2 separate regions of the Homo sapiens genome follow, and region 2 is linked to region 1. Evidence: fine-mapped expression QTL. Tissue or cell type: macrophages. Region 1 holds a variant in brackets; the other region holds the start of a gene. All regions are shown on one strand. Distances are between the middles of the regions.

Region 1 (8,121 bases):
GAAACAAAGGCTTATAGAGATTATGTAACTGGCAAGTGATGGCATTATAGCTCAAGCCTACATGATTCCAATTGCAATACAGGCTTGCCACCTTACAATCTTACCTTTCTTTGAATGAATGAATAGGTGAATCTTTTGTCACTTTGTTCTGAGGTGATCCATTGACTTTTAGAGTCCTAGGACCCTACATCCCTTTGGGCAATCCCACTGTCTATCATCCTATGAAGAGGCCAATCCTCGTACGGGAGATGGAGAATGGGCCAGGTGGGCTTTTGACTTGGCAGTGGGATATAAAGGCAGGTGGCAGAGGCAAACATAAGAAACAGGTCCCTCTCTTTGGGTCTGGGGGAGTCAGGAAACTATGTATACCTCAGCTATGGGAGGTGTGCTCCAGGACTCTGTGCTGGACAGAAAGCTTGTCCTTGTAGTATGACACAGACCAGGACCTGGGTGGGGGACACCACCACTATAAGACACCACTATCGTCTTAGGGCTTCAGCTCTGAGAGGAGCTCTCCGTAACATCCAGGTGTGGTAGGCTAAAATAATGGCTCCCCAAAGATATCCATGTCCTCGTCCCTGGAACAAGTGAATATTACTTTATATGGCAAAAAAAGGCCTTTGCATATGTAATTAAGGATTTTAAGAAAAAGAGATTATCCTGGATTGGTTAGGTGGGTCCTAAAAACAATCATATGTGTCCTCCTGAGAGGGAGGAAGAGGGATATTTGACATTTAAAAAAAGGAGAAGGCAATGTGACTGTAGAGGCAGAAATTTAAGTGATGCAACCACAAGTCAAAGAATGCCAGAAGCCACCTGGAACCGGAAGAGACAAGGAAGGATTCTCCCCTAGAGCTTCTGGAGAAAGCATAACCCTGTCAGCACCTTGATTTCAGCTCAGTGATACTGGCTTCAGACTTCTGGCCTTCTAGAACTCCAGAATGAAGAGAATAAATTTCTATTGTTTTAAGTCATCAGGTTTGTGGTAATTTGTTAGGACATCCATAGAAAACGAGTATGCCAAATTTGTTTCCTTTGTTATAATATTTTTGTTATCTCTAAGTCTTCAGCAAAGTTTTGTTAAGCATTAAAAAAGACAAGAGAAAAAAATTGCGATGAGAGCTGGAGTTTCTTCAGAATTATCTGGTTGAGAAATTTCTTGGGGTACATATACAACTCATTATAATAACTTCAGGGTGGCAAATTTAGGATTAGGTCTTAATGCATATTTAAGAAAACACTCAAATACTATATAGCTTAAATAAAGGAGAAGTTTTTTTTTTTTTTTTGCATAAAACAAGTCTAGAGTTAGGCAATCCCAAGCTAGTGGGGGCAGCCAGCAACACAGAGTTGTCAGGAACCAGTTCCCTTCTAATTGCTCAAGTGTACAGTCCACATCCTCGTGGTCCAGGATGACTGCTAGAGTTCCAGGCATCACATCTGAGTTCCAGAAGCAGAATGGAGAAGGCAGAAAGAAGGGTCCACCTTCTCACTCTTAAGGAGGCTTCCAGGAAGTTTCTCACACATTTCTGCTTATGTCTCTTTGGCTAGAAATTAGTTACATGTAACACAGCTGCAATGGATGATTGGAATTGGACTGTTTTACCCAGGTGACAGTATGCCCAGCTAAAAAATTAGATCCTGTTGATGAAAAGAAGGGGAAATGGATATTTGGAGGCAACTAGCCATTTCTATCTCACCAACTATTCAAGTTCTAGACAGTGAGGGGGAGGGATATAAGTTAAATTATAATTAACTAATGTGTGGGCTTTTTTTTTTTTTAAGACCTCACCTGAAGTAGATTTTAGTTCTGATGCTGCAGTGTAGTCTAACGTTTGTTTGTGTAAAGTATCCAGGCAACCATGGATAGAATGGCTGTGGGTCTGAAAACCATAAGGAACAGGAGAGGAAACAGGTTGTTTAGGTGAAAAAGAGTTTTTTTTTTTTTATAAGGACAAAAAGATCTGTTTTTCAATAAATTCCTGTCCTATGGATGTGAAAATGAACTACATCTGTGATAAGATAGAAGGGGAATGGGGTGGAAGGGAGGCCAATTTTAGCTGAATAGGGAAAAGAAATTTCTAACAACTGAAAAGCCGGCAATGGTACAGCTGCCTCTCAGAGACGTGACTCCCTTTCTGGGCTGGGAGCTGCGGGGGTGCTGGGAGTGAGCCTAAAGCAGGGGCTGGACTGGATGACTTCCCTCTGATCACATGACTCAGTGGGGAGGCCCTCTAGGAGCTTGTCAAAGATCACAGTGGAGGACACAGCACCGTGGGGGACTGTGTCTAATTAAGAGACAAATGAATGAGGCTGTCAGGGAGAGGGAAATTTCCATGCCCCAGGGTAACAAAGCTACAGTTGCTGCTGGGCTAAGGCCTGGAGGTCTGTGCCAGCTTCCCAAAAAAAGAATGTAGGGAGTGTGGCTTAAGCTTGGTGCCCAGCCCTGAATCTGGACAGCCCAAGGTGGGAGGGGCCCAGGACAATGGGATGGCGGGGCCTCATTTTATTTGCCTCCTGCTGTGCTTAACTTGGTAGGGGCAGTTAGACAGTTCCCAGCATCTTCTGAGACAAGCCTGGCAATCCGAGGGTGTCAGGGCCAAAGATGAGGGCTGGAGGGGAGAAAAAACCTGGATCTTTTGTCTGTATCTATATGGAATTACAGACTAAAGTCTTCTGGACTTCATGCTGAAGCTTCTCCAAAAGGCTGTGACTTGGTGCATGACTGTAGGCTATTTTGTGGATGTTTGAATGATGTTAGCTCTGTTGTGGGGTAATCATAGGTCATGCACTAACAAGAGCTGCCTTTCTATCCAGAAGAAGCACAGTGGCTCTCCTTCCATGAAATGATGGCTTGTCCCCACTGTTGTGAGCATACAGAGAACAGGAAACATGTTTAAGGCTCTGTCTCAGGAACCTGTGGTGGTCTGGCCTATTTTGATTGCAAGTGGCAAAAGCCACCCCCCGAACTAGCTTGAGCAGAAAGGGAAATTTCTTGCCCCCTGTCACCAGAAGTAGATCTGGCACAGTGGGTTCAACACCTCGCACTCTGACATTGGAGCTCTCCTCTTGCTCTGCTTGGCATGGTTCTTTTTGCATATTGGCCCAGACTCTCTGACCTCAGCCAAGCAGTCACCTGGAAGAGATGGTTCGGGGAGCTTCAAACTTACAGCTTGCATTCCAGCTACCCCCAGTCACCTGGAAGAGATGGTTCAGAGAGCTCCAAACTCACAGCTTGCATTCCAGCTACCCCGTGTCTTCATCTCCCCTCTGTTCCTTAGCCAGAGGCCAGTTGTCTCCTAGACAAGTGTCCTGACCAGAGGGTCTTTGGAAACAGGAAGACCCTTAGCAGGGAGCGTGTAGAGAAGTCCCAGCATGGTTCTCAGGGTCTTCCATGCCTTCCTTCTTCAGTTCCTCAGGAGTGTGGGAAGGATAATTTGTTTATATGTGACCAGGCACCTTGCCAGTATTTCTGTCAGCAGTGCCAGGGCTCTGGAAGGGCTTAACGTGGCTGCTCCCAAGCCCTGGACAGGAGCTGCAGCCAAGGAACTCATGACATGTCTCTGAGCGGGCCTGAGCTCCTCAGTCTTTCCCGTCACCATTCCTTGTGTTGGCCTGACCTCAGAGCCCTCAAGCTCTGGACCCAGGCATGACCTCGGGCCCTTTGCTTACTGTGTGTCAGCTGCCTGAGGAGGGCCTTTGGTCTCAGCCTGTAGCTGTGGCCCCTGGAGCCTGTTTTGGAATCATCCCAACAAAGACAGCTTTGACCTCTCCCCTGGAGGAAGCTGCTTTGACAAATGCTGAGATGCTGTTTATGCCTTCTCAGGCTGGATTGCAGGGTCACAACCTGCTCCACTTGCCTAAAAAAACATAAAGTCTGAGGTTTCCTTTTGGGACAGGACCAGGGGCACAGGAATTTAAAGGGTTTGGACATATCTATTAAGCAAGAGAGATCTCAGTAAGACTTGACTTCTATGTTGCCACCATGTGTTCCCTGTGGTTTTTGCCTGTAGGAATCGGGGTTC[C/T]TCATGGTAAGCAGTTGAAGCCAATTCTGGCTGACACAGCAGGAAAGGTTTAGTAACAGGATGTTGGGTGTCTCACAGAATCAGCAGAGCCTGGGAAACCAGGCCCCAGGCTACACGTGCAGAATAATGTTCCACTACACGTGGCAGAACTGGCTTAATGAGAAAACTGCTGTGGCACCGCCACTGCCGCCAACTGGATGTTCTAATTTGTATCACAATTTGCCAGGAACATGACCATTGTCACCACTGCTGCCTTCAGTGTCCATGCCACATCTGGCCCCAGAATGTCACCTTATCATCCCAGCAGCTCCTCAGCCACCTGCTTATGTCTTAGCTGCAAAGGAGGCTGGGAAAGTGACTGTTATTGTTTCTACTTTTAGGAGGCAGGATGCATAGGATGGAAAATTCCTCTAATGTAAGAAGGGTGTTTAAAGGGGCTGGGCAGCCAGGAAACTTGACAACGGCCCACCATACCAGCTGTGTAAGGTGTGTACCGCAACTTTGAGGGGAAGCAGTTTGCATGTAACTCAAGGGTGCTGCCTGAGATGGCTGATGCAGTGACCGCATCCTCAGAGGGGAGTCATAGAGGAGGAGAGCCCTCCAGGGTCAAGTCATAAGTGAGAAACACAAGTTCCTGGTGCAGTGATGGGAGGTGGGGGCTTGCAAGGCAGTTTCAGTGACGGTGTCTGGTGTCTTTCCTTTCTGCATCTCCAGGGAAAGATGAGATTTGCTGTGAGTCACTCTAGTTGGTCCTAGCTTCCAGCCCTGGGTTGCTAGACTAGATTAGCAGACTTTCCAGAGTGTGTTTTCCTTAGAGTTGATTGAAGCAAAATGCTGGGCACCCGTCTAGGATTCACCTAGAAGGAATCAAAGGAGAAAGGCAACAGAGTCCAAAAGTGGGACTTAACCCAGCAATGTAATCTGTTTTAAAAATAACTTCTTCCTGTCACTCTCAGCAAGATGTGGCTCCCACAGAGCCTTGCTTGGGGTCTGGGCTATCCAATACCTAAAACGGGTTTCCAAAAATAAAGCTGACATTTATTGAGTGCCATGTGTCAGGCACTTTATGGAAGGCTTACACAAATTATCTGAGTTAATCCTCACAGAAACACCATGAAGTATGAGCTATTATTACCCCGTTTTACAGTTGAGGAAACTCAGGTTTAAAGAGGATAAATAACTCCACTAATGGTTAATTAACCAGTATCAGAGCTGGGATTTGAACCTTAGCAGCCTGACCTCAAAGCCCACGTTGCTAAATTGTCTCTCTAGAATCTTGAGCTAGAAAGTAACTTGACCTCCCCAACATGAGGTTTACATTCTGCTTGGCTCTTCTAGAGTTCAGTCTAAATCAAAGTTAGAAAAAGCTATGCTGGGTAGACCTATCTGTGCTAGGTCCTGCACACAAATATGTAATCTAAACTTCTGGGTGGGGCAGCCCCTTCCTTAGTCACACAGCCCATCATCCTCAGATGCTTCAATCTGAGGTCTGACTAAGTCAGCAAGTGCGAGCAAAGGGTGACCAGGGTGTTGAGCTGAGACTGCAGGCAACACCTCCCTGTAGGGGTGTGAGGCTCTCACTATCTACAGGAGAAGCAGGAAACTGCCCACATCAGCAGGAGACTCCAGATGTCTAGGGAAGAAGGAAAAGAGAGAATCATTGAAAAGGAGATAAATGGAGAACAGAGGGCTGACTGGGAAAGAATGAGGATCCCCCAGGGATGTCTCAGTGGGCTGGAGGAGTGCCCTCAGACTGGATTAGACTTCTCTCTGGACCCCCTCCCTCCACATGCTTTCTGATTGTGTCTTTGGGTGGTTGCAGCCTCTACCAGATGACTGCACATTACACAATAACAAGGGCGAGTTGTGGGATCCTCCCTGTGGTAAGTGCTCAGTGCATGTTTGTTTACTGAGATGAATAAATGAGTCCTATCCTAGGGACAGCAGGGATTTGGGAAAGTGGAGAGAAATCCAGCCTGAGGAAGGAAATCCTTAAAAAACAAAAGTCCTCTTTGAGATTAGGTTCTACGTCCAGGCTAGGCAGAGGCAGTCCTGGAGAGGTGAACACCTGGCAGGTGGCTATGCTGCCTGCTGGAGGGTCCACCACAGAGCCCTTCCCACTCCATGGAGGCTGCTCATGCTCTGTGAGCCCCTGGGTAACAGCCTGCCTGGAGCCAGGAGCTGAGGCTCTTTCCATTCTTGCTTCCAGGGAAAGAAGTGGGTGAACTCTCTGCTCCGGAGTCTGAAAACTGTCAGGAAGGGAGGCATAAGTGGCACCAGGGGTGGAGAAATATGGAACATCAGGAGTCATCCTGGTATTTTGGAAGAAGCTTCAGTGTCAGAGCAGAGTCATCCATTCAGTAGACATTTATTGAGCGTTTAGGCTATATCAGACATTGTGCTAAACACAGAGGGGTGAGTGAGACAGACAGCCCCTGCCTTTGTAACGGTTATAATCGGGTAGAGAAGACAACAAATCCACACTTACAATGTAGTCTGAAAGAATTATTTTGGGGTGCTATGGGAGACAGAAGATAGCCATGGAATCCAGATTTGGGGTTGCTGGGTAGTGACATCTAAGCTAAAACTGTGAGTAGGAATTGGCTAGGAAAAAGGAAGTATTATGGCCTGAATGTGTCTCCCCAAAATTCCTGTGTTGAGATCTAACCCTCAATGTGATGGAATTAGGAGGTGGGGCTTTTGGGAGGTAATCAAGTCATGAGGGCAGAACCCTCATGAGTGGGGTAAGTGCCCTTATAAAAGAGGCCGCAGAGAGCTGCCTTGCCCCCTTCCACCAGGTAAGGACACATGAGACACATGCCCTGTATGAACCAGGAAGCCAAACCTGTTGGCACCTTGATCATAGACTTCCCAGCCTCCAGAACTTGGAGAAATAATTTTCTCCTGTTTATAAGCCATCTGGTTTATGGTCTTTTCTCATAGCAGCATGAACTGACTAAGAAAGGCAGAAAGGGAATAGGAAGGTAGTTTCAGACAGAGGGAGTAAAAACCTGACCTATTAAAAGGATCTGAAATAGCCCAGTCTGGCTGAATGTGAACTCTCAATGGAACAATGGTGAGAGATGTGTCTGCAAGACCTGGTCCGCCATGATGAGGAGCTTAGGCTCTGTCTTGATATAAACTGAAAAAAGCTGTGGCTCTGTGTTTCTTAGTTTCTGTATAGAGCTGCATTTGGAGAAGAGCAAGCCAACCAACAAATAATAATTTGATTTAAATCTGTATTGAGATCTCTTAAAGAATGCTAAGAGGAATCCATTTCACCCACATACCACTTCTCAGAAATCCCCCCTTTTCCTCCCTAATTGTCTCACTTCCCACAGCTCCCAAATCCCAAACTGTTTCTCCAGCCCTACTCACTTGGTTTCCTTCCTCTCTCTTTTGCCCCCTGCCCCTCGCCCCTAGCCAATGCTGTGTGAATCTAATGACTGAGTCAGCTTAAAACAACATTAACTCAGAGCTTAAAACATGAGCTTGATAAACCTTTCTCATCCTAACAGCAATTCCTGATTTTACGTGTGTCCAACCAGCCTTACAAGGGTTGAGGAGGCGGAGTATCTTTGCATTTGGACTTTCTTGAGGCCATCACATACCCTTCTGATGCTTCTACCGTGATCCAGGCAGGGTAGAAATAAAGGTGATCTGAGAAGACCTAACCCAAAGGAAACAAAAATCAGAGCCCAGATCCCCCAGCTGAGCCATTAAACCAAAGGGGCTGGGAAGAGACAGTAAATCCAGACATGAGGCCATTGGATAGAAATGGGAAATGACATGAAAACGAAAACCACTTCAAAATGAAAAAGATGGAGCCAGGAAAATTTCCCTGTACTGAGGAGGGTAGCACCAGAATTTTTCCAAGGCAACTGCAGCCTCATGACCTGTGATGGAGGGAAAGAAGGCTGGTGATGGTAGCCAGCCAGCCTGCTGAGTGGCCCGTGATTGTACATTTCAATTCCTGCAGACAGAGAAACAAGGATAGAGAAAAAAGAAGGGGAAAGGAGGTGAAAGAAGGTGAAAGGGAAGGGAGGAAGGCAAGACGGAAGCCGAAGCAGAAGCAGGAATAGAAACCAGAAATAGA
Region 2 (8,121 bases), 250 kb before region 1:
GTTTACCTGTTTTCATGGAATGACAGAGATGAGGGCAAAATTATGACAGTTTTTATAAAGAAAGAAATGTTGATTTGGTTTAAAGCCTGCCTTTTATTTTGATGTTATAGCTTTCTGATGTTTTGTTGTTCTTTCTTTTATGAAACTATAGTCATTGTAGATTATAGATGGTAGATTTTCCCCTCCTTCACCTATTTATTTACTTATTTTTTTATGTTTGCCTCGCACTAATAAACTTCTATTTTGCTCAAATTAGAGCAGTAATCTTCCATACATAAGTATCTTCCCTGCCCAATAATTTAAAGAAAAAATCCAAAATGATTAGTAAAGAAAAATATAAGAATTAACCGTCCCTTTAAATTTGTTTTAAATATTTTTAAGGTTTAAAAAGGGTTTAAAGTTTGTAATTCCTAGTAGGAAAATATTATCTGAATGAATACCCTAATGGCAAACCATGGTAAATGCTTCAGCTGCATTTGGGGGAGAGGGATATGGATTATCTTCAAAGCACCCCTGAGGTACGCTGGTTTGTATTATTGCAACATCCATAAGGTGATCTAGGTTGCTTTTCCTTCAGCACGGTCTTTATCAGAAGGACATTACTCTTGACCTCCAAATTTGGCTGACAATTTACTGATAAGATTCATAACCTTTGGGTTGCCCTGGTATTGTGACATATTTGCTGGGTTTTGAGCCACATCCTGGAAGAGGCCACCATAACTTTGGGATCCTGCACGGCTGCAAGAACCTCTGGATCACTAAGAATTTCATTGAGTCCAGTTATTCCGGCCATCCCAGGCATGCCCCCTCTCATTCCAAGCATTCCCCCAGGAAGTCCATCTGGAAAAGAGCCATACTGAGCTACTGACTGTCGTCTGGCTTCTTCCTCCCTCTGGGCTCTCTCTTGCTCTTCTCGAGCCTTCTTAACTCTTTCTATTCTTTCTTTGATCTCTCGCTCTTCACGTTTTTGCTCATACTTTCTCTGATGTTCCGCAATGTCTGTGCCCTAGGCTGAACTTCTTTCAGCATTGCACTAGCATCTTCATCATAATCCAATTTACAGGCAAGGGCAAGATCATGGGCTGCTCCTTCCCAGTGGCCTAGAAGTCTGTGTGCTTTACCTCGCCACTTGTAAGGCTGAGCTGAAATAAATTTCAACGGCTCTGTCACAGTCTCGGATGGCAGCATTTGGCTTCTGTAATTTGATGAAGACACTGGCCCTCTTGGCATACAAAATGGCCAACTGAGGATTCAGCTTGATGGCATCTGTGAATAAGTCAATGGCTTTCTGCAGTTCACCATCATTTAGGGCTTCAATAGCAGCCACTTTCTTATGATTTGCCTGATCCATCATCTCCTCTGTTATCTCTGCATTTTCATCTCCCATTTCTTGAGGGGCATCAGGGTCTGGTTCAATCACATCTTCATTATCAATTAATAGATTACTTTCCTCACTTGATGGTTCGTCTGCCTTTAAGTCTTCCTCCACCTTCTTACTATCAGGTTTTTCTTCCTTGGTATTTTCTTCTGATTTAACTTTCTGAGTAGCAGGTGATAGTTTACCCCCCATGCTCTCCACCCACTCCCTCAGGAAGTGCATTTCCTTGGTGTGCAGAACGCTCAGATCCTGCTTACACATTTTCACAAAAGCCCGAAGTGCATTCACTTTGTGGGGGTCCATGGTCGGGAGGCGGTGGACGAAGCTGAGGGGCCGTGGCCCGGTTCCAGGCCTAGGCACTGGCTCAGTGTGACTGCGCAGAAGGGGGCACCTATTTATTTTTTAAATGTCCTTATTTAACAAAATGAAAACGTAGCACCTATCTAGGTGCCTAAAATCCAAAGTTTTGAAACCAGAGATCTAAAAAGATTTAGTTTGCATCGTAACTTCCAGAAATGCCTTGCATTACTGTGGCAAAAAGCAGGAATTGCTAGCATTTAAGTAGGAGTAGGGAGGTTACGTCTCAAGAAGGGTGTTCAAGGACCCCTTTCTCACTGAGTAGGAGGTCAGATCTTTTAAGCTTCTCTTCCCAACATTAGAATCAGTCATCCCCCCAAAATTGGACATTTATTTCAGTCACTTTTAGGGAGAGATCAGTGTTGAGGGCACTTAGTGGTAGAGTGAGAGCAGGGGTTGGTGGGTGAGAAAGTGAAACTGGACAAGAGAAGTTGGGACTCAGAGCTTCCCAGTCCCCAAACAGAAGAGGAACTGGGAAGGTATTTCCAGCTGCGGAAGAGGAAGGTTTGGACACTCTCTTTACATGGCTAGTGTGGCTTCTTCCTTTGAGAGGAAAGAATTCTCTGCTTGAGAGGAAACCCACTGCAGGAACCTGAAGAGAACTAAGCCCACCTAGGTCAGTAACTGGAAACAAGTGGCTCTTCCTCTGTCCTGCATAGCTACACTTAGAAATTTCATGGAAAGGTGTGACATTTTATCAAGACATTTGGCTGCATTGCTCCTGCTGTTTAACCAGAGGATTCAGCAGCAAACAAAATAAGACAAAACAAAACAAAAAAACCAGGACGGTTTAATGAGTGGGACATGAATTGGAACAGGCAGGATGAACTGTGGGTTCCTGTGGTGGTCTGACAAGGATGTGACGAGGACACCTTTCCAGGGGCAAAGTCAAGGCCATGTGCTCTCACAGGAAATTCCCTTCGGTTAAGTTCCTGAAGAGTGTATTGATTTTCTGATACCCTGCCTTATTCAGGTAGGACTTAAAGCAGCTTACAGGAAAACAAGATTTAAAATGTAAGAAGTTAAGGATATAGGGAAAAGAAAGGTAGAGCAGAATGATAAGAGAAAGGTGGGGTTTGTGATCGTGGGAATTTCCGTGCTGGCATCTCCGTGTTGGTTCTGTTGTTGCAGGTACTGGGAGGAGGAGATGAACCCTGCTCCTGTGGAGGCTATGAGGTATTGATGTCGTGTACACATCCAAGGGGTGGTCTAATTATTTACAACTAGGCTCCTGAAAATCAGCCCTGAATCCAGCTTTCTACCTTCTCTTTTCAATATCATTTAATTAATTGAGTCACAGAAACAGCCTTTAATTCATTTAATTCCCTTACATTCTTCTAACTTCTGCCATATATCTCGTGATCTGTGATTTTTCCTTTTGCACTGATTTGATACTATGTAGTAGCAACTAAATATCGTTACTTATACCATAGCAGCTAATCTTTCTTATCAACAAAAACAAATAATGTCCACATTCCTGAAAACAATTAGGCTCTATTTCTAGCCTTGTGAACAAATGCAATTTTGTCACTTACATAATTTGTTATTGATAGAGTAACTTCAGAATTATTTGTAGTACTGCTTCCTGAGACATATAAAATCATATTAATGATTTTTAATAGCAATCAATAATAACATTTATTAAATACCCACGGTGCTTCGAATCTTTCAGTTGGTCAGTCAGCATTTATGTTCTTAATATCACTCCCAAAGCGTCATATAAACAACTTCTTTTTTTTTTTTTTGAGAGGGAGTCTCACTCTGTCACCCAGGCTGCAGTGCAATGGCACAATCTCAGCTCACTGCAACCTCCGCCTCCTGGGTTCAAGCGATTCTCCTGCCTCAGCCTCCCGAGTAGGTGGGATTATAGGCACCTGCCACCACACCGGGCTAATTTTTGTATTTTTAGTAGAGACGGGTTTTCACCATGTTGGCCAGGCTCATCTCAAACTCCTGACCTCAGGTGATCCGCCCGCCTCAGCCTCCCAAAGTGCTGGGATTACAGGCGTGAGCCACTGCACCCAGCCCATAAAAACAACTTCTAACCTCAGGAAGCCTACACTCCAATGGGAAACCAAGGGTGACCCCAGACCAATTTATGCGACTGCTTTATTTCCTTATCCACAAAGTGGGGAGAATGACAGTGCCCATCTCATAAGGCTGTTGGGAACTTTTAACGACATAATACTTGTGGAGCGTGATGGCTGGCATAGAGAAAGCACTGGATAACTGCTTGTTTTCCTTCTTCTTGTTATGATTGGAGAGATTCCGCGGAGGTGGTGCCTGGGAGCTGGCCACACCTCCCCCAGAGGGAATTTCCGAGTTTCACAGGTTTCTCTCCCTTCTGAGCAACGGCAGGTGAGTCAGGGTCGCTTGTGCTCCCCTCCAGCTCTGGGATGTATGCTGTCCAGCTGGTTACGAGTCTCCATGGCATCCGAGGAAAAGTGGAGCTGGCTGAAGGGAGGTGGAAAAGAAGGGCAACAAATTCCAGTTTCTTGTGAAACTTTGTAAACGTAAGGCTCTTATCTCAGTCTGCAGAGCAGAAACAGGGTGAGGGCCATGGATCTGAATGTCTCCACCTGTGCATAAAACATATGATTAGAGCTGAAGACCTAGAAGTCCCTTCCCCAGGCAGGGCATGAACTCTTCTGTTTCTAGAACCATTTAGGGAGGTGACAACTTGGCTTCGTCCCAGAGATTCAGGTGAGGACAGAACAGAGGGCAGGGTGTTCTTGCCCTGAGTTCCCCGCTAATGAGCTAATCCTGGCCCTTCACCTTTGTTTGGCATGAAGTTTACCAGAAAAGGGCATCCTGCCTTTATCCTTGGTTCTCTATACCCTCGCTACTTTTCCTGTGTTTTGTAAACACGGGATGGTGTATTTAGCTTTCTTTTGCTGGAATTATTTTCACCCCATGTCCTGTGTCTTCCTTGTCCAGAAGAAATCATCTTCTAGCCTAAGAGCTCCAGAGAAGGGTGTGCAGGGGACGGCCATGTTCTGATGCATGCATTCAGCTGTGTCGAACAGTCTTCCTGTTTTGCTACTGTCTGAGAATATTCTTTTCATTCTGTGGGCTCCTGGGCCTGGGCTTTCCTTGGCTTATCTCAGGAATCTGCCTCTTGGTCCCTTTCATTGGCTGCCTTCTATGTTTAGGTTTGTAGGGGAAGGCCCCTGGAAGGTGGGTGGGAGAAGAGGCACCTCTCAGGAGAGGCTGAGGCGCAAAGATGCTCTTGTCCACTCAAGTCCATATTTATTTATCTTCTAATATACTTTGTTTGTTAGTTTGTATGCTTGTTTGTTTTGAGGGTCTCCTTCTGTTACCCAGCCTAGAGTGCAGTGGTGCCATCATGGCTCACTGCAACCTCAATCTCCGAGCTCAATTGATCCGCTTGCCTCAGCCTCCTGAGTAGCCAGGACTACAGGTGAATGCCACCATGCCTGGCTAATTTTTTTTTTTTTTTTTTGTAGAGGGTTTTTTCCTGTTGCCCAGGCTGGTCTCAAACTCCTGGTCCCAAGTGATCCGCCTGCCTTAGCCTCCCAAAATGCTGGGATCACAGATGTGAGCCACCCTGCCTGGCCTTCTAATATAATTTGGATATTCCATGGATATTCCCACCTTGATCTACATTAGGAACTTCCTGGAGGCTTGTGCTCAAGAGAGGTAGTATCTGCTTGCTCAGCAAGCAGAGGCTGAGTAAGTGCAGGACTCTGAATATGGTTGTGCAGCAGAGTTGTGGGTATTTGTGGGGACGTTGACCTCAGGCCCAGCATTTAGATTTAGCTAGCAGACATGCCTGGGCAGCTAAACTGGCAATGTCAGACCAAACTGCCTGGCCTGATATTGCCAGGCAGTTTAGCGTATCAGGGCTCTGCTTAGAAGCCACAATGCCAAGGCCTCATGACCATATTCTTCCACCCTTGAGAATCTTGTCCACCTTCATATCCCTCCATTCCTCACGCATCATGTCCTGGGTGGGTGCCCTGACACCTCATTCTCACCTCCATCTCCTTGCTCACTCATGTTTTCCAGGTTGTACTTGAGAGAGCCTAGGCCTTAGCGGTAGAGTTGGTTTCAAGTTGCTGCCCTCCCATCCCCTGGAATGTAACTGGCTTTCTGGGACTTAGTTTTTTTCATTTGTAATGCCTGCCTTGTAGTCCCATTGTGAAAATTAATCAATAATTTGTTTTGAGGGTCCAATATGTGGCAGGCATTGTGGTAAGCTTTAGGGCAGGGGCATAAAGACCAGTTAAGATTTCTCCTTTTTAAAACTTTTATTTTTTTGTAGAGATGGAGTCTTGCTATGTTGCCCAGGCTGATCTTGAACTCTTGGCCTCAAGTAATCCTCCTACCTGGGCCTCCCAAAGGAATTACAGAATGAGCCACCATGCCTGGCTTATCCCTCTTTTTGAATAGCTTTTGGTTAGTGTTAAGAGGCAGGTTCATAAACATAATTTCAAAATAATGCGTAAATGCTAAGATAGAGGTAAGCCTTAGGAGTACAAAAGAAGGGAAAGAATGCTTTTTGGGTAAATGGTGGATGAGCTGGTTTTCTTTCTCTTTCTTTCTTTCTTTCTTTCTTTCTTTCTTTCTTTCTTTCTTTCTTTCTTTCTTTCCTTCTTCCTTCCTTCCTTCCTTCCTTCCTTCCTTCCTTCCTTCCTTCCTTTCTTTCCTTCCTTCCTTCCTTCCCCCCTCTCTCTCTCTCTTTCTTTCTTTCTTCTCTCTCTCTCTCTCTGGAGTTCAGTGGCGTGAATCATAGTTCACTGCAGTCTTAAACTTCTGGCCTCAAGCAATCCTCCTGCCTCAGCCTCCCAAAGCACTGAGATTACAGGTGTGAGTCACTGCAGCCATCCTGGATGAACTGTTTTGAAGGATAGGGGTAGGTTGGGGTGAATGTTCCTGGAAGAGAGAAGTGTGGAATTACAAAACAGTGTGATGTGAGCAGGGAACAATGAAAAGGTAATGTTCAAGAAAAAGAGTGACAGATGCTGTTGCTGGCAAGTAAATAGGGGCCAAGTCATGCTAGGTCTTATAGGTCATGCTAAGCATTTTGAATTCTATCTGTAGGCAACAGAGTTTTATTTTTATTTGTTTATTATTTTTATTTTTTTCACCCGGAGGTGAAACAATTTTATTTCACAGTTGCCTTTAAAACCTCAAAGATACTATTTTCTTCATATAAAAATATTAGTACTGGGGGGAGAGGCCAAGATGGCCAACTAGAAACATCTGTGGTCAGAGGCTCCCACTGGGAGGAACCAAAATGGCAAGTGAATCCTGCACCAGCAACCAGGGTATCCAGGTTCTCTCACTGGGACTGACTAAGCAGTTGATGTGACCCATGAAGAGTGAAGAAAAGCCGGGTGGTGCGACGGCCCACCTGGGAGCCACACGGGGAAAGGGCAGCTCCCACCCCAAGCCAAGGGAGGTGGTTAGTGATCATGCTACCCTGCTAGAAAACCGTACTTTTTCCACGGATCTGCGCAACCCACAGATCAGGAGATCCCACTTTTGAGCTACACTACCAGGGCCTTGGGTCCCAAGCACAGAGCTGTGCAGATTCTCAGCAGCCACTTGACTGGAGACTGCCTAAGACCCCAGTCAAGTGGCTGCTGAGAATCTGCACAGCTCTGTTAAGTTAACTCTGCACAGCTTTGTTAACAGCTCTGTTCTGTTAACTCTGCTAAGAGTTTCCAGGGGGGTGGGGGCAGCCATTATCACTGCAGCTGCCTGCTGCCTAAGATGACTGAGCTCCCCTGAGTTGGGGTGGTGGCCATCATTGCAGCTCATGTCTGCCATTTTTCCCCTGGTGGTTTCATCTAAGCTCATAAGGGAAAGGAATGAGTGGAAGATGTAGGGGAGCTCACTCAGCAGTGGAAGTTTTAAGTGGCAGAGAGGGAAGGTTTGCGATGGAGAGAATAGTGAGAACGGGAGGAGGAGGTTGGAGGAATGTTCTGTGGAGGACAAATGGTGAGACGGGCTTTCTCTGAGGACAATGGTTGTGGTGTGACTAGACTGGCTGGTCCCAAGGGTCCAAAGGGAAGCCACTAGCCTATTAGGGCTGGGCTGGAGCGTACAGGTTCTGGATCTGTAGGTCAGAGGTGGGGGGGTCCAGGAACATGCATTTTTTTTTTTTTGAGATAAGGTTACACTCTATGGCTCAGGATGGAGTGCGGTGATGCAATCACAGCTCACTGCATCCTCGACCTCCCCGGATTCAGGTGATCCTCCTGCCTCAACCTCCCTATAGCTGGGACTATAGGCATGCACCACCACACCTGGCCAGTTTTTGTATTTTTTGTAGAGATGGGATTTCATCATGTTGCCCAGGCTGGTCTTGAACTCCTGGGCTTAACTGACCCACCTGCCTTGGCCTCCCAAAGTTCTGG

Alleles and levels. Alleles are on the strand shown, and positions count from the first base shown. SD is a standard deviation of normalised expression in the study named.
As copies of C replace T in region 1, the expression in macrophages of the gene that starts at base 4,059 in region 2 goes up (large effect, 0.77 SD a copy in Nedelec 2016).

The links. PIP is the estimated chance that this variant, and not a neighbour inherited with it, causes the effect.
Region 2: LINC02762 starts here. The variant in region 1 is fine-mapped to the expression of LINC02762 in macrophages (Nedelec 2016, PIP 0.95).

The regions. Positions count from the first base shown.
Region 1 is chr11:112,521,379-112,529,499 of GRCh38, forward strand. All of the region lies in intron 2 of LINC02763 (long intergenic non-protein coding RNA 2763), which reads left to right. Among named protein-coding and RNA genes, the nearest start is that of LINC02764, 30 kb to the right of the region's middle. The variant C/T (reference allele first, on the strand shown) is at 4,026.
Region 2 is chr11:112,266,691-112,274,811 of GRCh38, forward strand. LINC02762 (long intergenic non-protein coding RNA 2762) reads left to right here and starts at 4,059. Exons shown (of 4, transcript NR_126004.1): 1 at 4,059-4,093. It also overlaps the pseudogene ST13P10.